Linked DNA regions of Homo sapiens: region 2 is linked to region 1. The links come from fine-mapping of genetic effects on gene expression. A gene starts in region 1. The other region holds a variant in brackets. All regions are shown on one strand. Distances are from middle to middle.

Region 1 (5,391 bases):
CAAAACTAAACCAAATTATGTTTCTGCACTGACATCTAATGAAACATGGCAAGATAATTTTAGAAACCTACAAAGACCTTTACTGTGCATTTAAGCCAAACTCCTGAAGGAGAAGTAATTGTATAACTGTCACTCTTTTAACAATTGTAGGATTGACAACAAACCATTTTTAACATGGTAGCAAAGAGTAAATCTAATCCCTCTTGCTTATAAAGATACTTCGAATATTTAAAGACAAATGTCATAACCTCTTGCTCCCCCAATAAGAACTGAAGTCAACATCTCCCTCAATTGTTTTTCATTTGGTATGATTTTGAGAACTCTTCTTTTACCACTGGATGTACAATAGTTTATCAATGATCCATTTAAAATGCTGGGCTGAAAATTAGGCGAACACTCCAGATGAGGCTTGGGTGGCAGAAACACCATACCTCCATTATTTCTGCCAATGTAGATGCTTTGTTTTGGAGCCTAGTTTACTGCTATAAGAATTGGATTAGGTTTATACTATTCCTCCTGATGAATTTGTGAGCATTGGAAATTTTCAAATTAGTCCTTCAGAGAATAGCTCTGACCATACCAATTCTCTGATTGGAACCTGAAGTGGCTACTCAAAGCCTACTAACTCAGGTCAACCTTCTTCACTCTGAAGTAAACTCTTAGCATGATCAAATCTTATATAATCTCTCACTCCGTCATCATTCTTCCCACTCTCCTATTTGTTCATCCTGCTTCTCCTCACTACTGAGGTCACCTGATGACTTCTTGCAGGCTTAGTACCTCTCTAGTCTTTAGAATTCAGTTCTGAACTAAAGAATAGGTAATTTAAGGCCCCATAGCTTAGTGTTTTTAAAGCCATCACCAAATCATCCCTTCACCAGTCAGGGCTTTTCTTTGGGATCCAGTTCTGACAACTTGTGTTTTGTTTTGTTTTGTTTTTGTCTTATACCTGAGAACTTGTCTTTATTTTTAACTCCTATTCTGGTAACCAAGTCCTTGTTTTTTTCTGAATATATATTTGCTTGTTATATTGCCAAAGACCATGTTCCACTCCCTCCAGAGGCTAAAGGTCTCATTGTGGGCTGCAGCTGATGGCTTCTCAGTCATGCTGCCTTTAGACAGATTTCCCTGATGCCCACTATTTGCCCTTTAGATTGAATTTCTTAACATCATCTACCCTGGATTTCCTCATAGATGGAACCTGCCCACTTATCTTGATACTGTATTATTTAGAGTTGAATTTCATGATGCCACCTATATGCTTATCTGGAGTAACTGTTGTTATCTAGGATTATATTCATCAGATTCCACATTCTTCCTGCCTTACTGTACTTTTCCACATCCATAACTGGACCTATTCCCAAGAATCCCTCTCCAGCCCCAGTGCATGGGGATCCAATTCCCTATCCCAACCCACTCCAGTCTTCCCAGTAATTTTGCAATCAATAAGGCTAAGCTCAAATGACCCTAGAGATAGAATACTATATTCTGATATAAAAAACAAACTACTAGCTCTGCCTCAGTGGCCTGTATTTTCCTGTCTCTAAGTCTTGGATCCTACTAAAATTACCGACTCTCTCTTTCCTGCTGCATAAATCCAATTCACTCTTTAAGCTTCAGCTTAAATACTACATTTTTCTAGCAAACTTCTCAATTCCCCACCCTACAGATGGGATTTAAACTGCTTCTGAAGTCCAAAAGCACTTCATTCATGTGTTTCTAATGGGACTGGCCCCAATGTCCCTGGCATTATTGTGCATTTGTCTCAACTTATTTCCCCTTTGAAATTGTTAGTCTCTTGTGGACAGAAACTCTATCTTAGCCTATCTGGTATACTCATAGCCCCTCTCAGATCTTGCCCTAATCAATATTTCTTAGAGAAAGAATAAACTAAAAAAAAGAATACTTGCCTTTTCTCGAGACACATTGATTCTCTTTGTCAAGCAGCACATGCAGCTGCTGGCAGGTGGAACGCAGGGTGCCTGAGGTGTGCTCCAGCAGCTGGTGAAGGGCACTGCTGAGTTCCTGACCCAGAAAGACCACAGTGGCCATCCAAGTGGCCCCACCAGCCCCCTCACAAAGGTCATCACCCAAGAGTGCCTGCTTTAGCATCTGGTTTTGTCTCCAAATCTGCTTCAATATTTGGCCCAGTTTACCTGAGCCCATGTATTCCATATCCATTTTATGATCCAAAAGTGGTATTTTCTCTCCTGCCAGCAAAGCCTAAAGGTTTTGCAAATTCAAACTTTGTGATTGTTATTTCTCCTAAACTCTAGGAGATGATCCGAGTCAGCTAGCCCAGCACTTTCTCACAACATAGTGGTTATTCAGTTTGGTGTTGACTAGTGAAAAGTTACTAGGTGACCGAAGAAGGGGCGTTCCTGTACCATGGGTGCTACTGTGTACAGAATACATTAATCACTGGGGTAGAGCTGACTCACATGATCCAACTCTCTGTGTAAGTTTTACAAATTCAATATACTGTGGAAGTACCAAATACTTTTCAAGTTTTGAGGCAACAAAATACAGATTCCAGGTAGGGTAAGAAGTTTATTAATCAAAGGTAAACTGTATGAACAATATTGCTGGCAGGATTCCTGTAAACTTAAAAATATTTATGAATGAAATAATGTGATGTCTGATTTTGCTTCTAAATAATCAGGGAGCATAGGGGTGGGTAGAGGTATAAAATTTGCTGTAAGAATTAATAAATGTTGAAGCTGGATATGTTTACACATGGGGTCTTGACAATTCACTCTAATTAATGTGTATATGTATAGTATTTTTATAACCAAGAGTTTAAAAAGATTCCTCTACTGGAGCAGAGCCTATTGCATTGGTTAGGAAGTTATAATTAGCATCTTCTTATGTGGTAAATCTGCAGAGACTGAGATAAGAACTTGGCCTCTGATAATTTCCCTCTAATTGGATAAAATGCCCCTTCACTGAAAGAAAGTAAACCTGAAGAGTAGCTTTCTCTAAACTAGCAAGGATTCTTTACCATATGTAATTAAAATTCAGATACAACAAGCTCTCCCCACTGCTGCCCATCTGCCTGCCAGCGCATCATATATGGGGCTATGCAATGCAGCACTTGCGGGTATTTGGAGGAAACCAGAACAGTCTGCCTCCCTCTCTCCAATCCCACTGCTCAGAGAGAACACACACCTAAGCCAAAGGAAGAGGGCAGCAAGTACATTCCAGAGAGGCTCATGTTCCCTCGGGTACTGGAACAAAATGAAAGCTTTTCAAGTGGAAGCCGGAGTGCTTCCCTCCCACAGGCAACACATTATCTCATCTTAAGCCCTGGAGTTCTAAGAGCTACACTCAGGGCACCTGGAAGACAAGATGGGAAAAACAAGCCCAGAGAATAAATAATGAAGAATGACTGCCACTGCCCTAAAGACTGTCAAAGACCCTGAAGGAAAGGAGCAGTATTGAGTACTGGTGGCTGCAGAGTGGAGAGGGGCTCCTTCACCACTAAGTGTCTTATTTTTCAGTTAACTTCTGTTCACTGAAAAGGGGACCTTTTTCGCAGTATGAGTTCATATCACTTCATGGATTGGATCATTTAAATCTTCTCAAACTAAAGACTCACTCATTCAATTCTATTTTCTTTTCTTACTCCTTAAATGGATGTGTCATTCTCAATAATAATGTACACATGGCTTTAATTCAATGCTAATTTTGAAAACTTCCTATAGCATTTACTGTGGGACAGGAACTAAGTGCTGGAGGTCAGGCCTTTTTAGGATTTCAAGAGACAGATGCATGAACAGATTATTGAAATAAAGCTTAGTCTGTGTTGAGAGCTAGAGCAGAAGTATAAAGAAAAAGTATCATAAAAGCTTTGAGGAGTTAAAAAAATAATTCTGCTTAGAGGCCTGGAAAATGTTTGAATTAGAAACTAAAGGATAAGCAGGCTATGGAGTAAAAGAAAAAAAATATTCCAGCATAGGAAATAATATGATCAAAGTCACGGAGGCATGAGATTACACAGTAGGATCAAAAATGTAAAAGTATGGCTTTGGAGGAAGGTTCAGTTAACGAGTCAGAGGTGACAAATGAAGAGTTCAGTAATTGTAGATAGTGAGGAGAAGAAATTAGAATTTTGGTTTACAGATAAGACAGAAATTGAATATATTTGAATCAGACTGCAATGTGATGAAATCTGTGCTGTAGAGATGCAGATGTATTAGATGACAGAGATATAAGAGTTAGGAGGCTCGAAGGTCTGTATAAAACAGCAACAGAGCAGATGAGAGAAGGGGATGGCGTGAGAGGGGATTTGAAGTACAGTGGATAGAACTTACTAAACTTACCAAACCATCAGATTATAGGGAGAGGAATAGAAAGTATTGAAAATGCATTCATTTATTTGAGAAATATTTATTGACCACTAGTATAAGAACTATGCTTAGTATTAGAATATGACTGAAATATTTAATTTAGGTGATTACATAGACTATAAGACTATTAAGGAATTTAAGTGGGATTTTGGGCTCGATGGGTAGATAATTTAATTTTAGATTTGTTGAGTTTGAGGTAACTCAGAAAAATTCCTTAGAATGTGTTTTAAGTTTAAAAATTAGAATAATATTGGCATATTTGAATGTTACCAGTAAATAAGTGGTAAATGAATCCCTGGAAGTAGAAGAGATCAATGGAGAATTTACCATGCACATTTTAAGTATTGAATAAAACTGATAATGAAATACTGCTTGATCATTTGAGCAGTCTACATTTATTTCTAGATATGTGGGAAAATCCTTTCTCAGGAAGAAAAAAACAAACCCAGACATTCTCTTTGTTTCATTCACATTTGCTATCCTCAAGTTTAAACTTGTTCTCTGTTTGGCTTCTTAAGAACATATAATATTTGCAAAGTGAGACCTACCACAGGCCACACTGCATTTACTTGTTAAAACACGCATCAGCATGTTCCTGCACCTTATTTTCCATTAATTGATGTCACTAACCACAGAAAGAACAGACATTTGCAGTCAAGACACCTACAGAAGTTCACTGCAGAAATTCATCTGGATGATTTTAACATTTGATTGTCATCTTCATTGTTGCTACTAGTTATTATGACTCCTTTTACTTTCTTACTGAAAATTCAGTGCTTCCATTGACGTTAGTATGCAGTCTTGAATTCATACCATTATGTGGTCAAAAAGACAACAGTTTTTCTTAACATTAAAAGTATCAGAGTGGATTAGAGATAAAATTCAAATAGTAGGATAGTTCTTTGTTTAGTACCTAAAGAAATAAAAATATGCAGTTGATTGGACAGGCTATTAATGACAGGCTATTAATTGCAAAGGTTGTGAAGACAATAAAGTTTTAAAGCATAATGAAGACTGCTATTTTTCATGGCATTTATAGTGG
Region 2 (5,391 bases), 39 kb before region 1:
AATATGAAGTATCACCAGGACGCTTACTATCTTACAAACCTCATCATCTTTCTGTGGCCCTCACATGCGCACTGACCATCACAGCCTTCCTTCGAGTCCTTGACTTGAAATGCGTGCCCGTCTCGGAGTCTTGGAACTTGCTGCGTCTCCCACTTGGATGCTCTCCTGGCCATACAGGAAGGTTCTGGTCTCCGGTTGCTCCTCAGCTCGGTAGTCCCCTCCACAGTGAGGTCTTCCCTAGCTATCCCACCTACCAACTCACACCACCAATTCTGTCCATCTTCTAATGCTAATTTATTTTCTTCCTTGGCACTTCTCACTGTCCTCCTCACATTTTTGGTCCATAAAATGCAAGTTCTATTTATATATACCCATTCACTCATGTTTATTGAGCATCTAACTTATGCCTGACACCATTCTAGGTACTTGTGATTTGGCAGTGAACAAAAAATGTTCCCCGTCTTCACAGAGCTTACTTTCTAGTTATGGAAGAGAGGGTTTTTCTGCAAGAAATGTACAAATGAAGAAACACATGTAAAAACGGAGAAATGACTTAGAGGGAAAAAATAGGGCAGATTAAAGAGGATTAGGAATGTCAGGTTGCAGGGTAAGAGTAGATTGCAATGTTAGAGTCAGGGTAAACCACAGAGAGAAGGTGAAGTTTCAGCAAAGAACTGAAGGAGGTAAGGGTAACAGACATGCAGATATCTGATGGAAGAACATTCCAGCAAGGGGAATCACTAACACAAAGACCTAAAGCAGAAGCAGGTGTGGCATATTCCAAAAACTCAAGAGGGTCACTGTGGTTGAATAAGTGAGGAGGCGAGTAGAGCAGAGAATGCCTTGGAGTCAGTGAGGGCCAAGTTCACACAGAGCCTTTATTCTGATGGAAGCTGGGAGCCACTGAAGGGTTTGGGGCAGAGGCATGAGATGATTTGACTAATGCTTTAAGGCAGTAGTCCCCAACTATTTTGCCACCAGGAACCAGTTTCGTAGAAGACCATTTTTCCATGTTGGAGGGATGGTTTCAGGATGATTCAGGCAAGTTAAATTTATTGTGCTCTTTATTTCTATTATTATTATATTGTAATATATAATGAAATAATTATATACCATAATGTAGAATCAGCGGGAGCCTTGAGCTTGTTTTCCTGCAACTAGAAGTTCCCAGCTGGGGGTGATGGGAGACAGTGACAGATTATCAGGCATTAGATTCTTGTAAGAAGCACACAACCTAGATCCCTGGCAGGTGAATTTCACAATAGGGTTTGCACTCCTACAAGGATCAAATGCCGCCACTGATCTGATAGGAAGCAGAGCTCAGGCAGTAATGCAAGCAATGCAGAGTGGCTGTAAATACAGATGAAGCATTGCTCACTTGCCCAACGTTCACCTCCTGGTTCCTAACAGACCACGAACTGCTACCATTTCATGGCCCAGAGACTGGGGACTCCTGCTTTAAGGGATAACTCTGCCTATGAGTTGAAAACATGCTATAAAGAAGAAAGGGAAAAATGAGACCCTACATACCAGGACACCACTATACGTTGAGCCTTTGGGATACACTGTTTGTTGAATTAATTAATATATGAATGAATGAACTACAGAGGCTGAAGAATAAGAGACGCAGAGATCCTCACAAGTATGAAGTAAAAAGTGATATGTCTTCTCATCTTTATGAATCAGACACAGTATATTAACATCACACATTATAATTATGTGTGTGGTTCTATGCCTAGATACATATATGTAAATATTTACTGTTTGTTCTCTGTGAAGCACTTTTAATTTTGACAAATACCTTCACCTATTTTATGCTACATGTATAAATATCCACATAGTGTCATGTTCATTAATGCCAAGCTACTGCTATATTAGGCTACTTCCATTTCCTGAAAAATAGCACATTCTAATACTGCTTAGTTGAGGTGAATTTTTTAAATTCTGATGAAATAAGTCTCATCTTGCAAAACTAAATGTCATAGTTTCAATTCCCATTTAGTTATACTAGTTTGAAAAGAAAAAAGTTCCCACAGCCACAGATTCTTTTTCAACCTGACAAACTTATTTCTGAAGACTTTGGGCACAAGAAAGGGCTCAAAGAGTGAATCTGGAAAGCCCTATACGAACCCATCTGGAATAAAAAGAAAGCACAGATGGCCTATTGGCAGTAGATTCATCTATGAAAGACAGCAGAAGTTTAAATGTACTATTTTTAAACATGCCAATATAGTTTCAGGATTATCAATTTCAAGGTTGAGTAACTGTAAGGTTTGCAGAGATTATCTTGTTCATCTAGTTAGTCACAAATATTTATCAAGCATGTACTATGTGTCCGCACTGGCAATACAGAGTTGAGCTGGACAGTGTCTGTGCCTGCGCAGTTCGTTGCATGCATTCTCAATTTTGGTAATGTCACCCTTGGGGAGAGAAAATTCGTTCTTGGCTGAGACACAAAAAGGCTTACTCTTTCAGATGTATAAAACACAGATAAATATATGGTACATAGACATACAGTATATCCGTGGTAATAAAATTTCACAAGGAGAGGTGATTAGAAAAAAAAATATTTCAGAAAAAAAGACTCCCTGAAAAGCCATTACAGCAACAAGGGAAGGAAACAAGCAAGTGGATGTCATGAAATATGGTAACTACAGTGATAAGGAAAGTACAAAATGCCGTAGCTCCATATACCAGGAACACTTAACCTGGTACAAAGGAGGAGTGAGGGAAGGCTTCCTTGGCAAGGCTGCACTTCAGCACCGATGTGAAAGAGGTTCAGTAAGAATTACTCAGGCACATAGGTAAGGAATGGTGTGTTACAAGCAAAACAGAGAAGAAGCTGACGCAAAAGTACTGGACAATCGTAAACACAGACTTTTACTGAGGAAAATCTATACAAACCCCTAAATTATCTATGTTGGCTAATTTGGCTTGACTAATTTGGCTACTTTTATAAAGTCAGGCAACAGAGGAAACACTAATAAGTGAAAGCTGAATTCCTATCACATTTTTGGACTTCATGTCTGTCGTCTCTGACATAACGGCCTTTCTTTGCATGGTCTGCCATCATCTCAGTAAGGCCCTTACCGCCTCTTGCCAGAGAATTCCAACCACCACTGGCTTGTCTCCCTTTCATCCTCT[T/C]ATGGCAGCAAAGCAACGTGAGGCTTTCTGGAAGCAATGTGCCAGCTGAGCTGCCTGGAGAGCAGCCCTTAGGTACCCCTCTCCACTCCACATCTTCATGCTGATCCACATCGATGCCTTAGCCTGTCAGTTAAGAGTTTGTAGAATCAGGCTCTAAACTACGGAACAGAGAGAATTTGAGTATTCCTTCAAGTCAATAGTTCTTAAACTTTTAGAATCTGGAGACAGCTATAGACCTCCCCTTATTCACCAAGTCATAGATATTTAGGGTGCCTACTATGTGCCAGGCACTGTTCTAATCACAGAAGAAGGAACCTGGATAGAATAGACAGGGTCCTTCATTCATGGAGTTTGCTTTTTAAAGAAGCAAAGGAAAATAGAAAATACATGAACAAATAAATCTAAAAATATCAATGATGAGTGTTAGGAAGTAAATCGAGAAAGGGTAACAAGTTAAAAAAGTGACCTCAGATTAGAAGATAAGGGAATAAGAATAACAAGTGACATCTGAGCTGAGCCCTGAATGATAAAGAAGCAGCTATGGGACTATCTCAGGGAAAATTGCCGCATGCGTAAGTAACGGCCGTATGGTGCAAAGTCTTATGGTGGAAATGAAAATGCACAGAAGAGGCCAGGCATAGTGGCTCACGCCTGTAATCCCACCACTTCGGGAGGCCGAGGCGGGCGGATCACGAGGTCAGGAGATTGAGACCATCCTGGCTAACACGGTGAAACCCCGTCTCTACTAAAAATACAAAAAATTAGCTGGGCGTGGTGGCGGGCGCCTGTAGTCCCAGCTACTCGGGAGGCTGAGGCAGGAGAATGGCGTCAACCCAGGAGGCGGAGCTTGCAGTGAGCCGAGATCGCGCCACTGCACTCCAGCCTGGGCGACAGAGCGAGACTCCGTCTCAAAAAAAAAAAAAAAAAAAAGAAAAGAAAAAGAAAATGCACAGAAGCAAAACTGATAGATGTACACCAGATTGGCTGGCTATACTGTCATCAAAGCCTCATTTTCAGTATCAATGGCTTAATAAATTCCTCTACTTATGCATGCTTCCCATGGACCACGGGATCTCCCCCAAAACAGCAAGTAAAGTTAATGTCGCCAGGAGACTGTTCCTCTGTACTGAGGGCTGCTTTCAAGTTCACTGGTTGGTGTCCAGGTCATATCATTTGTTAAATATTTCTAATATTATCTCTGTACTAAAGCATAGTACAGACATCATACAACATCAAAGGTGTACCTGGATGCCCTAAAATCCATCTTGTATCTTTGACTAATAATCCTAGCTTTATGTGCTAACAAAGTGACAGCATAATAGCCATTCAACACACAGGAAGCAGATTTCTTGGGTCTGAATTTTAGCTCTGCCATTTACTTAGCCATGAGAACCTGGGCAAATTGCCTAAAATTTCTGTGCCTCAGTTTCCCATAAAATAAGAACAATTATGTATCATAGGATTTCTGTGAGGGTTTAGTGATACAATGCATGTTAAGTATTTGAAAGGCCTTTGGCATATTAGACATTATTACAATGGTTATTACACAACTTGTGAATTCCTGCTAAGCTATGCTTACCACCCCGGTCAAATGCATTATATTCTCTCCCCCAACTTGCCTTTTTTCTTCATTTCCACTGTCTGAATTTCCACCAACTTACAAAGCTCAGATAAAATGCCACAAACACCACAAAACTTCTACTGGTTACAGATTATAAAAAAGCCATTTCCCTTCTCTGAACAACTATTAGTACCATCTAGTACCAACTATTAGTACCACTGTTTATATCACCTAAATATAACTTCAATCAGTTACTATTTTACAACGTAATTTTGTGTATTGTTTTGTGTACTTATTCACTGGATTATAAATTCATTTAGAGAAGCACTATTCCATAGACATATAATTTGAGATACATATGTAGTTTAAAATATTCTATTAATAGTAACTATTTAAGATGTTTAAAAAATAAAAGAGGAAGTTAATTTTTATATATTTTATATAACCTCATATAACCAAAATATAAATTTACCATGTAGTCTATGTAAACAAATTATTAATGAGATAGTTTATATATTATTTGTACTGAGTCTTTGAAATGCAGTGTGTATCTTAAACTTACTGCCCATCTCAGTTTAGACTAGCCATATTTCAAGTGCTCCACAGCCACATATGGGCAGTAGTGACCATTCAGAACAACACAGCTTTAGGGCATGTATTATCCTTTACAGCTCTGTATTTATCAC

Which allele goes with the higher level. Positions count from the first base shown, and alleles are read on the strand shown. Sizes are in standard deviations (SD) of each study's normalised expression.
For the expression in testis of the gene that starts at base 2,324 in region 1, T is the low allele of the variant in region 2 and C is the other (small effect, 0.11 SD a copy in GTEx).

What was found. PIP is the estimated chance that this variant, and not a neighbour inherited with it, causes the effect.
Region 2: its variant is the best candidate, but not a certain one, in a credible set for the expression of DTHD1 in testis (GTEx, PIP 0.79).

The regions. Positions count from the first base shown.
Region 1 is chr4:36,278,549-36,283,939 of GRCh38, reverse strand. DTHD1 (death domain containing 1) reads right to left here and starts at 2,324. Exons shown (of 10, transcript NM_001170700.3): 1 at 1,911-2,324. The coding sequence starts at 2,181.
Region 2 is chr4:36,317,296-36,322,686 of GRCh38, reverse strand. The region is part of intron 8 of DTHD1 (death domain containing 1); the gene reads right to left. Among named protein-coding and RNA genes, the nearest start is that of DTHD1, 38 kb to the right of the region's middle. The variant T/C (reference allele first, on the strand shown) is at 3,145.